Homo sapiens: one gene and its partner. The protein of the gene in region 2 purifies or fractionates together with the protein of the main gene of each other region. This does not show direct contact. Each region holds a gene or a part of one and is shown on either strand. Other genes may lie near its edges. The genes, in order: KIF22 and CKAP2.

Region 1 (7,523 bases), on a different chromosome or scaffold from region 2:
TCTCAGCAGGACAGCTCTTCCAAGTCTCCTTTGCTTTGCTCTCATGGATCTGAAAGATCTGATCCAGATCACTCCTTGAACCAGAAGCAAAAATGCTCATCCTTGAAACAGCTGTCCCAAAGTGAGAAGTTTTGCTGAAGGCTAAAGGGGTTGGAAAATGGAAAGGATCCCCAGGAGGAGGCCTCCTTAGGTCCCCAAGGCAGCAGCACTGAGGAGAGATTAATCTTAGACTTTAGTGATTCAATGGAGTAGAATTTGGGGGGAATTTATTTATTTACTTATTTATTTATTGAGATGCAGTCTTGCTCTGTCACCTAGGCTGGAGTGCAGTGGCATGATCTTGGCTCACTGCAACTTTCACCTCCCAGATTCAAGCAATTCTTCCTGCCTCAGCCTCCTGAGTAGCTGGGATTACAGGTGCCCACTACCATGCCTGGCTAATTTTTGTATTTTTAGTAGAGATGGGGTTTCACCATGTTGGCCAGGCTGGTCTTGAACTCCTGACCTCAGGTGATCCACCCGTCTTGGCCTCCCAAAGTGCTGGGATTACAGGCGTGAGCCACCGTGCCTAGCCAGGGTTGAATTCACTTATTTACTTTGAGACGGAGTCTTGCTGTGTCGCCCAGGCTGGAGTGCAATGGCCACAATCTCAGCTCACTGCAACCTCTGCTTCCTGGGTTCAAGGGATTCTCCTGCCTCAGCCTCCCAAGTAGCTGGGATTACAGGCACATGCCACCACATCCGGCTACTTTTTGTATTTTTTAGTAGAGATGAGGTTTCACCATGTTGGCCAGGCTGGTCTCGAACTCCTGACCTCAGGTGATCCACCCAACCTCAGTCTCCCAAAGTGCTGGGGTTACAGGAGTGAGCCACCGCATCCGGCCTAGGGTGAATTTAATGGGAGAGGAACAAGATCACAGCTCTCTGCTCAAGGATCTGACGGGCATTGCAGCTCTGCTGCTAAGCCATACATCAGGAAGGGGATACACCCAAGGCCCCACTGCTCACCTGAGTTTCTGGGAGGCAGAGGCTGGAGCTGCCATGGGCTCAGGGCTCCCGATCTCCTCTTCCTCAGGGCCTCGGGCTCTCTTTGCCTCTGGTGGACCAAGCAATTCTTTCTGAGACAGCTTAACAGGTCCCAAGGCTAGATGATTGGAGGATGGGGTGGAGAGAGGGATTGGGGGTGGTCAGCCTCTGTGCTGATGCTTGGTGGTTTCAACAAACTCCCTAATTTCCAGACCCAGCGTTTCCACTCCTGCCTCCCCCAGTTCTCACCATGAGGCTGCAGGCTCTCATTGGTAAAAGGCCGATTGATCACCTCCTTGGACCTGGCAGCAAAGTTGAGTGCGGAGACTGTGTCTAGGTAGAAGCGTCTCTCAGGGGCAATGTTGGCAATAAGGATACTGTGGGCTGAGCCACCCAGAGAGTCCTGAGGGTGAGACCAGGCAGTGGGTGGGTCAGAAGCCCAGCCTTCCTATGCCTCAACTGCTATTCCCCACCCCACAGCAGGCCTGAGAACCTCCTTCTGCAGCCCCTTCTTCCCTGAGACAGGTGGGCCTGACCTGCAATAGGCGAGTGAGCTTGCTGTCCCGATAAGGTACACGAGGGAGGCCCTGATTCAGCGCATCTACCACTTTGCCCAGGACAAACAGGGAGGTGTTGATGGCTCCACTCTCTTTTAGCCGAAGGCCCTTGTTGCCTGTGCGCCGGTTGTCCTCTGACCCAGCCAAGTCAATCAGGTAGAGTTTTCCCTCTCGCTGGCGAAATGGGGCCAAACGTTCCCGCTGGTCCACCTGGGGGTAAGAACAAAGGTCTCGTGCTTAGCTCAGGCTCCTGGGCTTCCCAGGTCCTCGCCCCTGTCTGCGGCCTCACCTTGACCAGGAGCACAGCATGACTGCGGGAGGAGCGCTGGTTGAGCCGGGTGGCTCCTACAGTCCGATTTCGACTGGCTGGCAGGAAGTGCCGCTCAAAATCAGCAAAGCTACTGATGGGCTTCTGGGAGAGACCCGGAATCAGGATATTCCCCCGGCAGTCTTCTCGGATTACCAGGTCTCCCGAAGCAGGGTCCAGGAGGTCTAATACCTGTGTAAGCAGTGAAGGGGAAGGGCAATTCTCCATAGAGAGGCTGTTTCTTCCTGGGGATCAGTTTCCTTTCTCTGTTCTATTCTCGGAGTTGTACCATCTGCTACCCCAGTCTCTGTCTTTCTAGGTCTCACCTTACCTCCCTGCTACAGCAGAGCTTCATGTTCTAGAACCAGGTCTTACTTTGACCCTTTGTTGCTCCTCTCCCAACCAGCACGGGGCCTCACCTTCTCCTGGTAGATCTCTAGGTAAGACATGGTGACAGAAAGGGCCCATGGCCGGCCCTCGGCACCCTCCTCCCTTGTGAGCTGCAGGAGGTCCATGAGAGCCCGCGGGATCACCCCAGGTTGCTCTGGGCTGCCCAGCATTGTGTGCGTCTTCCCTGGGAAGAGAGTGGAGAAAACTGTGAGGTTTTCCTCTCCGTTTCCCCAGCCCTTTCTGACCCATAGCTGTTTCTTTTCTGGCTCCCTCACCAGCTCCTGTGGGTCCATAGGCAAGCACACTGGCATTCTGCCCTTCCAGCAAGTGCCTTAGGATGGGCTGCACTGAACCTGCATAGATGTCCTGCTGAGTACTCCTCTCCCCATAGAAGGCATCAAACCTGCAGGAAGAAAGAAAGAAATTAGCGTGTGTGTGTGTGTGTGTGTGTGTGTGTGTGTGTAAGGGGTGGAGTGGGGTGGGGGTGGGTAAGGGATTCTACTCTCATCTGGACCTTGGATTTAAGAGAACGTCTCTATCCCCTTTCTTGTACAAAGACCTTAAAAAGCATCCACCTAACACCTACTCCATCCTCATCTCTCTATTGGTGTTAGGAATACAGAGATAGATCTGATATCCCTGCTCTTGGAGTTTTTCAGTCTGGTAGGATAGATATCCACACTTTGCTGTGATTTAGGAAACGAAGATAAGAACACACTCTCAAAGGAGTAACTGATTCTGCTCAAGGAAGGAAGATTTTGACCAAAGAAAGAAATTCTGAGAATCAAGAATAGCAAAAAAGCAAGGCTTCCCAGTCTTTTTCAAATGGCTACATGTGTAGAACATTGTATTTTACACCATAATGGGGAAAATAGAGGATGCTGCTTATGACTGAACTAGACTCTACATACCAATCACCTATCCACTGCGTTCTGGTGGAGAAGTGCAGCTTAGGCCACAGCAGGGAGTTTAATATATATTGAGGGAATGAGGCTGGAAAGAAACTGAAGCCCAAATTGTTAACGGCCTAGTATGGGAGCTAGCAAACTTCTGTAAAAAGGCAGATTGTACATATTTTAGGCTTTGTGGGCCATGTGTTCCTTTTACAACTACTCAACTCTGCCACTGTAGTCAGAAAGCAGCTATAGACAATATGTAAATAAACGATAAAATTTTATTTACTGAAAATCTTACTCCTGATCAGATTTGACCTGCAGGCCATGGTTTGCCAGCCCCCGCCTAGAAAAACAGGCCAAGGAGTTTGAACTTTAAATCCCCAGTAGGATTATAAAGTAGCTGCCCTTCTGAGTTCTGTCCCCAAATCTGGGTGGTCTTCTCTGACACTACCCAGCTGCAGCTTGGGTAGGCTGGCTGGCAGGTCTGTGTTCCGCCAACCCTCCTGATATGTCCCCCAGCCTCTACTTGGGGCTCACCTGCTCACCCTCATTGCTCCTCCCTCTCTGTGCACAGTAATGTATGTTTGATTCAACCTCTCATCTCTCCCTACAGTATCCCAGAGAGGGCCCATCATGGGGGCACCTGTCAACATTTCCTAAGTGAACAGTGAAGGCTCAGGGAACAAAGCGGTGCTAAGGAGGGAGCAAGGATCCTGGGGAGGCAGGGGAACGTGGGCAGGCCTAGGAGAGGGAGGTGATGGCATGAGGGAAGAGGAGTGGCCTGAACCTTACTGGTATTTGAGAGTCTCCTGGTGGTTCCTCCAGTTAGCAATCTCTAGAGAGCAGCTGTCCATGCCCCGCACACAGGGGGGATCACTTGCTCCCGCTGTTCCATCCACAAATGGCCGCAGTCGCACAGCCACCCTTACGCGAGCTGGAGGTGGACGACGAGTAGCTCCAATCTTGCTTAGCCGACAGCGACCAGCTCCTGGAGGAGAGAAGATCACTTTTAGACATGAAGTATGGTGGTAGCAGAAGAAGCAGGGACCAACTTTGCTGGGCGGGCTGGGGGCCACAGCTCATGTTGGAGAAGCTCATTCTGCCCTGGTCATGTTGTGGACACCCCTAAGCTTGGCCTCAGTGCCTTCCCTGCTCTACAAGCAAGTGCAGCAGGTGTATAGCAGGCTTCTCAGACTGTAATGTATACACAAATAACCTGGAGGATCTTGTGAAAATGTGGATTTGGTCTCCGTCTCCCTGGGGTGATGCCCGAGATTTTGCATTTCTAACAAGCTCCCAGGTGATGCTGGGCACTTAAAAAAAAAAAAGAGAGAGAGAGGGATGGAGTCTCACTAGGTTACCCAGGCTTGTCTTCAACTCCTGGGCTCCAGCGATCCTCCTACCTCAGCCTCCCAAAGTGCTGGAATTATAGGCAGGAGCCACCATGCCTGGCCCAGGACATGTTTTGAATTGCCAAGGGTGAAGTAGACCAGCACCTCACAGGGTTGTTCTAAGGATTAAAAGGGTTGACATCTGACCGAAACCTAAACCAGAGAGCGAACTGCCAGAATTTTCTGTGTGTGTGTGTGTGTGTGTTTTTTTTTTTTTTTTTGAGACAGTCTTGCTCTGTCACCCAGGCTGGAGTGCAGTGGCATGATCTCAGCTCACTGCAACCTCCACCTCCCAGGTTCAAGCGATCCTCCCACCTCAGCCTCTCGAGTAGCTGGGATTACAGGTCCCCAACACCACTCCTGGCTAGTTTTTGTATCTTCAGTAGAAACAGGGTTTCACCATGTTGGCCAGGCTGGTCTCAAATTCCTGACCTCAAGTGATCTGCCTGCCTTGGCCTCCCAAAGTGCTAGGATTATAGGTGTGAGCCACCCTGCCCAGCCTGTACCTCCATTTCTTAACTGGGGTTTCTAATATGTATTGAGACGTATGTATACTCACAGACCCACCCACCCCTGCAAACTGTTAATGATGATCTTCTCTTGATGGGGAATTATGTGGGTTCTGCAAAAACCACCGACATGCAATTCTTCTCTCATGTAAACTTAACCCTGAATTTGCTTCAGATGATTAAGTTTTTTTTGTTTTGTTTTGTTTTAGAATTGGCAACTGAATTATTTTTATCATCAGAAAACACAATGAAGATAAAACTTAAAAAAAGAAAAGCCCTCTATTTTTGTGGGGGTTAAATGAGCTGAAAATATCTAAGGAGAGTATTACTCTATTTTACGTTGGAGGATAACATACTGTAGCTCATAGTGGAATTCAAACCTAGATCTCTTCCCCTCTAAAAATCTGCTTTTAATAGGATGCTGTATTGCTTCCTTATTATGTACCAACTGGGAAAGCTCCTGGCAGCTCTTTCCCTTCCTTGCTGGTGGTAGCAGCTGGTTGCTAGGAGCCATAGGCCTCGCAGAAGGCAAAAGGCTGGCTGGTATACGTAGCCAACACAGAAACAGCAAGACGAAAAGGCAGACAGATGACCCCTACAAAGAATCTTACACCTAAGTAAGGCATGCCCATAAGCAGACGGGCTGTTTCAAAAACTGAACCTCCATTCCATCATCTGATAAATGGGGCTACTAATACCATTTCTCACGTTATGGTAGCAAAGCGCTTGGACATCTAGTTCTCATTTGTTCCTCATGGCAATCCTGAAAGTCAGGAGCAAGCAGGTAAAAACCTGCAGATGCATGTGTGCAGATAGAAAACTGAGGTGCACTGACTTGTCAAAAATATGTGCAGGACCTTCCTCTGCCTGCTTTCACAGGATGTTTTGGGAGAACAGAAAGATGGCAGATGTAGAAGCACTTAAGGAAGCGCAGTGATCAATCTAAGGGGAAGGGGAAGTCAGTAATGAGGTAGAGTGTAGACTCTGGTCAGACAGAAGTGGACTTCAATTCCAGCTCTGACATTTATTAGCTTGTGACCTTGGACCTTGGTTTCCTTGTCTGTAAAATAAGGTTGGGGGTGGGCCTTGGGCTTTTTGAGAATTTGGCCGGGCGCAGTGGTTCATGCCTGTAATCCCAGCGCTTTGGGAGGCCAAGGTGGGCAGATCACCTGAGGTCAGGAGTTCGAGACCAGCGTGGTGGTGAAACCCTGCCTCTACTAAAAATACAAAAATTAGTCAGGTATGGTGGTGGACGCCTGTAATCCCAGCTACTTGGGAGGCTGAGGCACAAGAATTGCTTGAATGCGGGAAGTGGAGGTTGCAGTGAGCAGAGATTGCGCCACTGCACTCCAGCCTGGGTGACAGAGCAAGACTGTGTCTCAGAAAAAAAAAAGATAATTGAAATAAGTGCCAGATAAAGTGGCAGCACAGTGACTAGCACATAGTAGGTAGGTTCATCATTCAAGGTAAAATGGCCTGGGTTGAAATCCCAGCTCTGCCATTTACAGCTAGCTAAGTAACCTAGGGAAATTATTTTCCATCCCAGTGCCTCAATTTCCTTACCTGCAAAATGGGAATAAAAATACCTCTTTGTTAGGTTGTTAGGAGAGTAATTAAGGTGATTCATGTAAAAGTGCTTAGAACATTATCTGGTATTTGGTGAAAGGCCAGTAAGTGCTTTTTAATGTCCGTCTCCCATTTTCCAGATGAGGAAACCTCAGTATAGAGGGGTTAGCTGACTGACCCAGGGTCAACAGCTAGTGACTGACAGCTTCAAATGAAGATCTAACTCCAAAGTGCTTTATATGAACCCTCCTCAGCCTCCTTAGCCCCTTCATCTTTGCATCTCATAAGAATGTGAGGATTCAAAGTAATAATGTACATACAATGTTTAGCACAGTGCCTGGCAGCAACTGCTCAGTCCTTAGCTGTTATTATTACACCCTTTCTCTTGCTACCCACTCCTCCATCCCTGCAACTTGCTTCTGCCCTCACTATTCAGCAGGGTCACCCATGACTTCCCTAGTGCTAGATCCAGTAGGCATACTCAGCCTCAATCCTGTTGGACCTCCCAGAAGTATGCGACACTCTTGGGAAACACACTTTTCCCTTCATTTCCATGCCCCCCACCTTCCTGGTTGTCTTACCTAGTTTTCTGTTCACTCCTCATCCTAGGATCCGTCTATCCTTTCTCTAGACCAGCATTTCTCAACTTCAGCACTACTGACATTTCGGGCTGGCTAATTCCGTTGTGGGGCTGTCCTGTGCATTTAGACTGTTAGCATATGCTTACTAGATGCCAGTAGCATTCTCCACCCTCACCCTCAAGTTGTAACAACTAAAAATCTCTCCAGACATCTCCAAATGTCCTGTGAGGGACAAAGTTGCCCCGAGCTGAGACCACTCAGATTCATTTCATAGGCAGGTCACCCGCCCTCTTGGCTTCA
Region 2 (7,880 bases):
GGCCCTCCGAGGCCGCGAGCAGCGCGCCAGGCAGCCTGCGGCGCCCCCTAGCGTCGGACGGGACGGAAGCGAGTCGGGGCGGGTGAGGGACGGAGGGAGCGGCCTGGCAGCGAGCGGGCGCGGCTGCGAGGTGCGCCCGGGGACGTGGAGACGTGCGTGGAGCGCCCCCTGGCGGTCCATTAGCCGCCGGCCTTTCAGAACCCTTGATCAGCAGGCGGTCCACCCCATTCTAAATTCAGAGCTTACAGGGACGCGAGGGAGCCCCGACCACAGCTTGGACTTGCTTATTGTGCATTATGCCTGCATGTTTGTGGCAGTTTTCTTGTCAGTGCCCAGAATGTTGCTACATTCGCTAATGATTGTAAATAATCATAACCCCTCTCTTTCAAATGAATATTTATGGCACGCATTGTTTCTGTACAGCTGCAGTCAGTACTACCTGTGCTGCTCTTTTTTTCCCTTTAAGATTATATTGTAACACAAAGGATAAATGCTTGAGGTAACGGATACCTCATTTACCCTGATGTGATTATTATACAGTGTATGCCTGTATCAAAATATCCCATATACCCCAGAAATATATACACCTATGTACCCACACAAATTAATTTTTTTTTAACTGGGGGAAACAGATTTTATTTAACCGGGCTTGATGCGCGCGCCTGTATTCCCAGCTGCTTCCGAAGCTGAGGCGGGAGGATTGCTTGAACCCAGGAGTTTGACACCAGTGGGCGACATAGAAAGACCCTTTCCCCCTCCACCCCAACTCCCCCACGCCACTCCACTCCCCCACCCCCAGGCTCAGAAAAAAAAGATTATTTTTATTTAGGCATTTTCAATATTAATACAGACCTCATGCGTGAATTTACATTTCAATATGTAGTTCCTCTATAATTTAGCTGTTTGTTGGTCTGCGCAAAGCCATCCATGGCCGCTGCTCTCACCCACCAGGCGGCCTCGTGCCCCTAGCCATTTCATTTTTGTATTTTGCTTTATAAATGGAACACCTGGCCGGGCGCGGTGGCTCACGTTTGTAATCCCAGCACTTTGGGAGGACAAGGCGGGCGGATCACAAGTCAGGAGTTCGAGACCAGCCTGGCTAACATAGAGAAACCCTGTCTCTACTAAAAATACAAAAAATTAGCCCGGCGTGGTGGCGGGTGCCTGTAATCCCAGCTACTCGGGAAGCTGAGGCAAGAGAATCGCTTGAACCCTGGAGGTAGAGGTTGCAGTGAGCCGAGATCGCACCATTGCACTCCAGTCTGAGCGACAGAACGAGACTCTGCTTCAAAAATAATAATAATAAATAATAAATAAATAAATAAATGGAGCAGCTTATAGATGTCCTTCTACAATTGATACATATTTTTCTCTTTAGGATTATTTTCTTACAGTGTCTTCCTAAAATAGAATGACTGCTTTAAAGGTTGTGAACACATTTTAGAGAGCCTACCACTTATTGGGGTCTTAACTAAGGCTGCGTGCCCACGTGGGCAGAGGGGCACAGGGGCAGAGGGACAGAGGGCAGGCTTGCTCTCTGCCCCCAGGGCTCCACATTTCCCCCAGTCGTGGAGTCAGTGGTCTGTGGCTAGGCATTAAAAGAAAGGAAAGGCTCTTTCCAATGAGTATAAGCCATCTCTCCCCCGAAATGAATTGCTACTTTTACCGTGTTCCAAAATCCTGTGTGTATTTTGGTCTATTTCTAAACAGTGTCTTCTGTATTTCATATCTTTCAATTTCCATCATGACCATATACCCAATAACCAAAAGTTCTTTGAAAACATTTGATTTGCTGTAATATGCTATCAATATATATCACAATTTACCATCATTGCCTGATTTTTGAGCATTTGATTGTTTACCAACTTTTTAGTCTTTTTTAATTGAAAGTAATGTGACCTAAGCATCCTAATCAGATGTGGAACTGTGCAGTTATGCCTGGGCTTTGCAATTATCAACATGTTAGGCAGTGAGGACATTTGCAAGGTATGTTTTCTGCCCTTGAGGGATGTACAGTCTGTAGGACACAAATAGAAGCCTGGCATATGATAGCTGCTGGGATAGACAACCGTATAAGGGTTTCCTGTATCCAGGCTGGAGCAAGGAGAAACGTCATGTGGCTTATATATGGCAATAAATGAATAGACAAAAGGTTTTAATTTTTATGAAGTTCAGTGTATTTTTTTCTTTCATAGTTCATGGAATTTGCCTATTTAAGAAATCTTTTTTCCACAAACCAGATATTGATACTGATTATGAAATCTTTGCCTAACACAAAGTCACTAAGATTTTCTCCTATAATTTCTTCTAGAAGCTTCATAGTTTTGGTTCTTACATTTAGGTCTATGCTTTTTTTTTTTGAGACAGAGTCTCACTCTGCCGCCCAGGCTGGAGTGCAATGGCACAATCTCGGCTCACTGCAACCACTGACTCCTGGGTTCAAGCGATTCTCCTGCCTCAGCCTCCCGAGTAGCTGGGATTACAGGTGCCTGCCACCACGCCTGGCTAACTTTTGTATATTTTGTAGAGACAGGGTTTCACCATGTTGGCAAAGCTGGTCTTGAACTCCTGACCTCAGGTGATCCACCCGCCTTGGCCTCCCAAAGTGCTGGGATTACGGGCATGAGCCACCACGCCCAGCCATCCCCAGGATGTTTTTGCCAGGACCTCCCACCTTCTGAATCAGATGGTTCCTTTCAGTCCCAATCCTACTGGACCTCTGTAGTGCCCAACACTGTGGTCCATTACCTCTTTCTTCAGCTTCTCTCTTCCCCAGACTTTGTGACCCCATTGTGTCCCCATTGTCCTCCTAACTTTCAGATTGTCCTTCCCTGTTCTCTCACAGGCACTTTACCTTCTTCACATGACCACAGGAGGAACGACTAACACTAATTAATCATCAGTACTCCAGGTGCCTGCAGTTTCATGGTCAGCTGTGTTGGCAAAGAACTGTTCTGAAAGGAAATCTTTTTTGTTTTGTTTTTTTTGTTTGTTTTTTGGATCTTTTAGAAAAAGGTCTGCTTTCTCTGCAATAATTGTGTAGCAGTAATATTAAAAAGTGTCTCAAAAATAGACATATCATTGGAGTGGGTGAGTCTGGAGATTAGAGGAGAATTGCCATTTTGAAAAACCTAGCAGTTTGGCAGGTTTTCCTATTCATCTCAGCCTACTGAGATCTCCATGGTATCCTTTGAGTCAATTTCTTTTTTTACCATGCCCACTTATAAAAAATTATTGAGGTTCACATAACATAAAATTAATCATTTTAAAGTGAACAACTCAATGGCATTAATACATTTACAATGTCACCCAACCACTACCTCTAATTCCAAAACATTTCACTTACTTCAAGGTAATGAAACCCTTGTCCATTAAACTGTCTCCCAATTCTCCCCCTACCCTCAGCCTCTGGCAACTACTATTCTGAGTTATTTCACTATGGATGTATCTATTTTAGATCTTTCATATAAATGGAATCATACCATATGTAACTTTTCATATATTACTTCTTTTACTTAGCATAATGTTTTGGAGGTTTTTGAGTCACTTATTAACGCTGTATTTTGTTCTCACTTAATAGAAATCCCTGGTTGCCCCACCTGTCTGATGAAACTTTAGTAAATAATCAACAATAATGACAGACGTATTTAAACAGCAAGTTATATCTTAAGGATGGTGATGGACAATGTTAAACTAAAACTGGGACATTTCATCAAGTAAAAAACTACACAAAATCTCAAACCAAATTCCTCATTAGCAAGACGCTACCATAAGATGTCTGAAGAAAAAAGCAGGCAGAAGTGGGAAAAACTGACCACAGCCGAGGGCCAGCTGTGGAGGCCCTCAGACCTGGGAAGGGTAAACGGGGAAATCACATCCTCCCGTCTGTGTGCCCGGAGCACCTAAAACCTGGCTGAAAGAGTCCAGTCCAGCCTTACTGCAGTGATCAGGCAAGAAATGTAAACCCAGTGCTTGAAACCAGGCAGGTGCAGTCCAGACTCGCCCTCACTTCCCCACTGCCACTCTTAAAACCTTCTAGCCCTGACTTGTTTCGTTCTGTCATGTGGATTGAGTGTTTGTGTGGGTTTTATGAAGGTGGTATTTTTAGATGAGAAAAACGAAGATTATGGCGGCACACTTAACCACACAAACACAAAACGTCTGTAACAAATGCTATTTTATCTTCAAAGGAGAATTATATATAACCTTGAGGAGGGGATGAGGTTTATCTTCATTTTTTTCTGTTTCTCCTCCTCTCCTCCCTTTTTTGCATTTGATAATTGCTTAGAATAAAGGTATGGAAAGTAGATCCCAATTTCAGTTCCCCTTCACACGCTGTGCAAACGTGGACAAACAACCTCTGAACCTGTCACCTCTCAGTGGAAAAAGTGGTGATAACGTCCCACCTCAGAATTGATGCTCAAAATGAAGCAGTATTTGTGAAACGAAAATACACACGCTCGTGGTACGCCAGATCGGTGTTTACGTCCTCGTCAGTGAACGCGTCGATGTTTAATAAGAAGGGCAGCCAATCAACACTTTTCTTGTCTTTTTCTCGTCTGCCTTCCTCCAAGGACTGTGAGGGTCTCAAGATGTGTCCCATCTCGGTTGTTTGTCAACCTAGTCCTGCTATGTCGTGGGGACTGAGCAGGCCGACTCCTCCCCCATCGCACGTCCAGGATGAAGAGCGCTGTTTAGGTTTGAAACCTGCAGACTCAGTCCCAACCGAACTGGGCAGACACCAGACCGGCCCCGGCAACTGCAGTCCAGGCTCCGCCTCCCTACGCCCATTGGCTTATTCAATTCACGCAGGAACCAATGGGCGGAGACGGCAGCCGCGCCGTCTGACGGCTTAGCCGCGGTGCAGACTGCGGCGGCGGTGGTCTGAGGAAGTTCTATCTTGGCGCTAAAGCGGAGACGCATCCCCCGACCCGAGGCTACGATGAGCACACCGGCCGTGCCCCAGGACCTGCAGCTGCCCCCGAGTCAGAGGGCGCAGTCCGCATTCAAAGGTGAAGGCCGCGGTGGCGGTGGCGGTGGCGGTGGCGGTGGCGGTGGCGGGCGCGGGCCCGGCGGTCGGGGCTCGGGGCCGCGCTGGCGCGCTTCACCTCTCCCCCGCTCTGTGAGATCCCTGAACGCGGCGTCGGCCTCGCCCTGCCTCATTCTTGGCCTTGTGGAACGGATCATAAAAACAGGAACCGCTGCGTGGTGTTACTGTGCGGTCGCTGCTGGCTGGGATGGGCCCTCCTAAGAAGGAATCCGTTAGGCGAGGGGAAACGCGCGGGCCTCAGGCCGGGGTCGGTGTCGGAGACCCTGGGTCCGCTTGGGGGCGGGGCTGCACAGGTTCAGGGACCGACTGCGCCTGCGCTGGGTCCTCCGCCTCTTAGGTCCCTAGCGAATTTCTGCAGGGCTGGGGTCGCATCATGTGTTATTTCCAATTTCACAGCTTCTCCTTCGACTTTATGGAAACCGAGGGTTGGTTGGGTCTTCAAAACTAATATTGTTATTCCCTTATTCTACACACGGGAAAGCAGAAGAAAGTAATTCTCATCTAACCCAGTTCTGGTAAATTAGAACTTTCGAGTCTAGTGCCTCACTTCTACCATTTAGTTTCTTAAAGCTTGGCTAGCAGGAGCTGTATGTAGAAAATGATGTTCTCCAGATTTTTCACAGGGAGTAGAGAATGTGATTCTTATGCAGAGGGGTTTTGGGGACCTGTTGTGGTAACAGTCTCTTCTAAGGTGATTTCTCAAAGGCAATATTGAATTGGAGAATTTTCTGTTATATAGATGTGACCTCAGGTGGAACCAGCTTTGGAAGTAAACTCTTCATTTAGTCAACAAGATTTATTTGCCGTTATCGATGTTTTAACTAATATTGACTTGTAGCTCTTACCTTTGTTATCTAGAGCAAAGAAGACAAAAACTCAAGGAACATCTGTTGAGAAGAAAAACGCTTTTTGCATACAAGCAGGAAAATGAGATGTTATCCAGGTAAGGTCAAGTTTATTTCTTTTCACTTCTGTAAAATTGTATCAGATCTGTCCAATGAAAATGTAAAGTAAGCCATATCTGTAATTTTAAATTTTCTAGTAGCCACATTTAGAAAAACTGCTTACATATTATTTTACGTCTTTTTGTGGTACAACGTCTTTAAAATCTGGTGTCTATTTTACAGTTACAGGACATTTCCATTTGGTCTATCCACATTTCAAGCACTCAGTAGCCACATTGGCTAGTGGCTACTTTATTGGATGGTGCAGCATTAGATCATCGTTTTATTAATTTTTTTTTTTTTGAGACAGAGTCTCACTCTGTTGCCAGGTTGGAGTGCAGTAGCGTGATCTTGGCTCACTGCAGCCTCCACCTTCTGGGTTCAAGTGAATCTCCTGCCTCAGCTTCCCAAATACCTGGGACTGACTACAGGCAAGTGCCACCATTCCCTGCTAATTTTTGTATTTTAAACAGAGACCGGGTTTCACTATGTTGGCCGGGCTGGTCTTGGACTCCTGACCTTGAGATCCGCCCACCTCAGCCTCTGAAAGTGCTGTGATTACAAGGATGAGCCACCGCGCCCGGCCTAGATTATCGTTTTCTACGTAAATTAATTCACAGTCTAAGAGAAAAAAACAATTATAAAGCAAAGTATGTGCATAGACTAGATTATCAACTTACTGTTTACACCACACAAAGGTCAGTCTTTCTATTATTTAGCAAAGCTTTTTACTCAGTGTATGGGGGAGTTCATCAGGGAAGGGTTGGGTGGCCCTCCCAAATGCTTAGAGATTACTAGTTGTAGTCTCAACCCTCCACAGAAATATCTTTATTATTTTGTTAAAATATCTTAGATAGTACATAGCTGTAGCAAAAACAAAAACCCATGAAAGTAGATGAAGCAGAAAGGCAAAAGGTCCCCTCACTCTCTAGGGATAACCAGTAATAACATCCTTACAGGCTTAGGCTGGGTGCTGTGGCTTACACCTGTAATCCCAGCACTTTAGGAGGCTGAGGTGGGCAGATCACGAGGTCAGGAGATCAAGACCAGCCTGGCTAACACAGTGAAACCCCGTCTCTACTAAAAATACAAAAAATTAGCCAGGCATGGTGGTGGGTGCTTGTAATCCCAGCTACTGGGGAGGCTGAGGCAGGAGAATCGCTTGAACCTGGGAGATGGAGGTTGCAGTGAGCCGAGATCGTGCCATTGCACTCCAGCCTGGGTGACAGAGCGAGACTCCGTCTCAAAAAAAAAAAAAATTGTCTCAGGTAAACAAAATTGTATATACCACCCACACACATATTCAGAGAGTGGAAATGATAACGCAAATGGGATAAAAATTTTAACAATAGGTGGATCCTGGGTAAAGAGTGTACAGATATTCTTTGACCTGTTTATATTTTTGCAACTTTGTGTAAGTTTGGCATTCTAAAATTTTAAAAATAATTTCTAACTTTATATTAATAAGTTGCTTTAGTTTGGAATAAACAGTTTATCCTTCACAAATAAATCTTTTATTTCTTTGTTTAAGACAAAAAGGTGATCCTAGGTTTTTTATTTGAATAAGTAAATGAATGGTGATAACCGTATACTGAAATAGGAAGCCTGAAGGAGGAGCTGGGGAATTAGGAGTTCTGTTTTGACTATGTTTGAGGTACCAACCAGACATCCAAGCAGATATGCCAAATAATTGTGTGTCTGAAGTTCAGGGGAGGGGTTGGGGCTGGAAGCATAAACTCAGGAATTGATTAGTATACAGATGATATTTACTTAAAAACCTTAGGATGGAATGAAATTACTAGGGAATAAGTAGAGATAATATGGATTCAGACAGTGACTCTCAACCACTTATTTAAATAAAGAATCCAACAAGGTCAGGGGTTTAT

The links.
Region 1: the proteins of CKAP2 (region 2) and KIF22 purify together in Homo sapiens (affinity purification with mass spectrometry; 2 studies listed by BioGRID and IntAct, with this or other methods). This does not show direct contact.

Annotation. Positions count from the first base shown.
Region 1 is NC_000016.10:29,793,534-29,801,056, reverse strand, and holds part of KIF22 (kinesin-like protein KIF22), read right to left. Parts: intron 4,165-7,523; coding exon 3,969-4,164; intron 2,684-3,968; coding exon 2,556-2,683; intron 2,465-2,555; coding exon 2,310-2,464; intron 2,083-2,309; coding exon 1,873-2,082; intron 1,794-1,872; coding exon 1,563-1,793; intron 1,430-1,562; coding exon 1,276-1,429; intron 1,145-1,275; coding exon 1,009-1,144; intron 884-1,008; coding exon of another isoform or gene 835-883; exon of another isoform or gene 255-834; intron 1-254. UniProt on the Homo sapiens protein: Kinesin family member that is involved in spindle formation and the movements of chromosomes during mitosis and meiosis. Binds to microtubules and to DNA. Plays a role in congression of laterally attached chromosomes in NDC80-depleted cells.
Region 2 is NC_000013.11:52,450,615-52,458,494, forward strand, and holds the start of CKAP2 (cytoskeleton-associated protein 2), read left to right. Parts: upstream 1-4,863; 5' UTR 4,864-4,942; coding exon 4,943-5,012; intron 5,013-5,373; exon of another isoform or gene 5,374-5,565; intron 5,566-5,908; coding exon 5,909-5,993; intron 5,994-7,880. UniProt on the Homo sapiens protein: Possesses microtubule stabilizing properties. Involved in regulating aneuploidy, cell cycling, and cell death in a p53/TP53-dependent manner.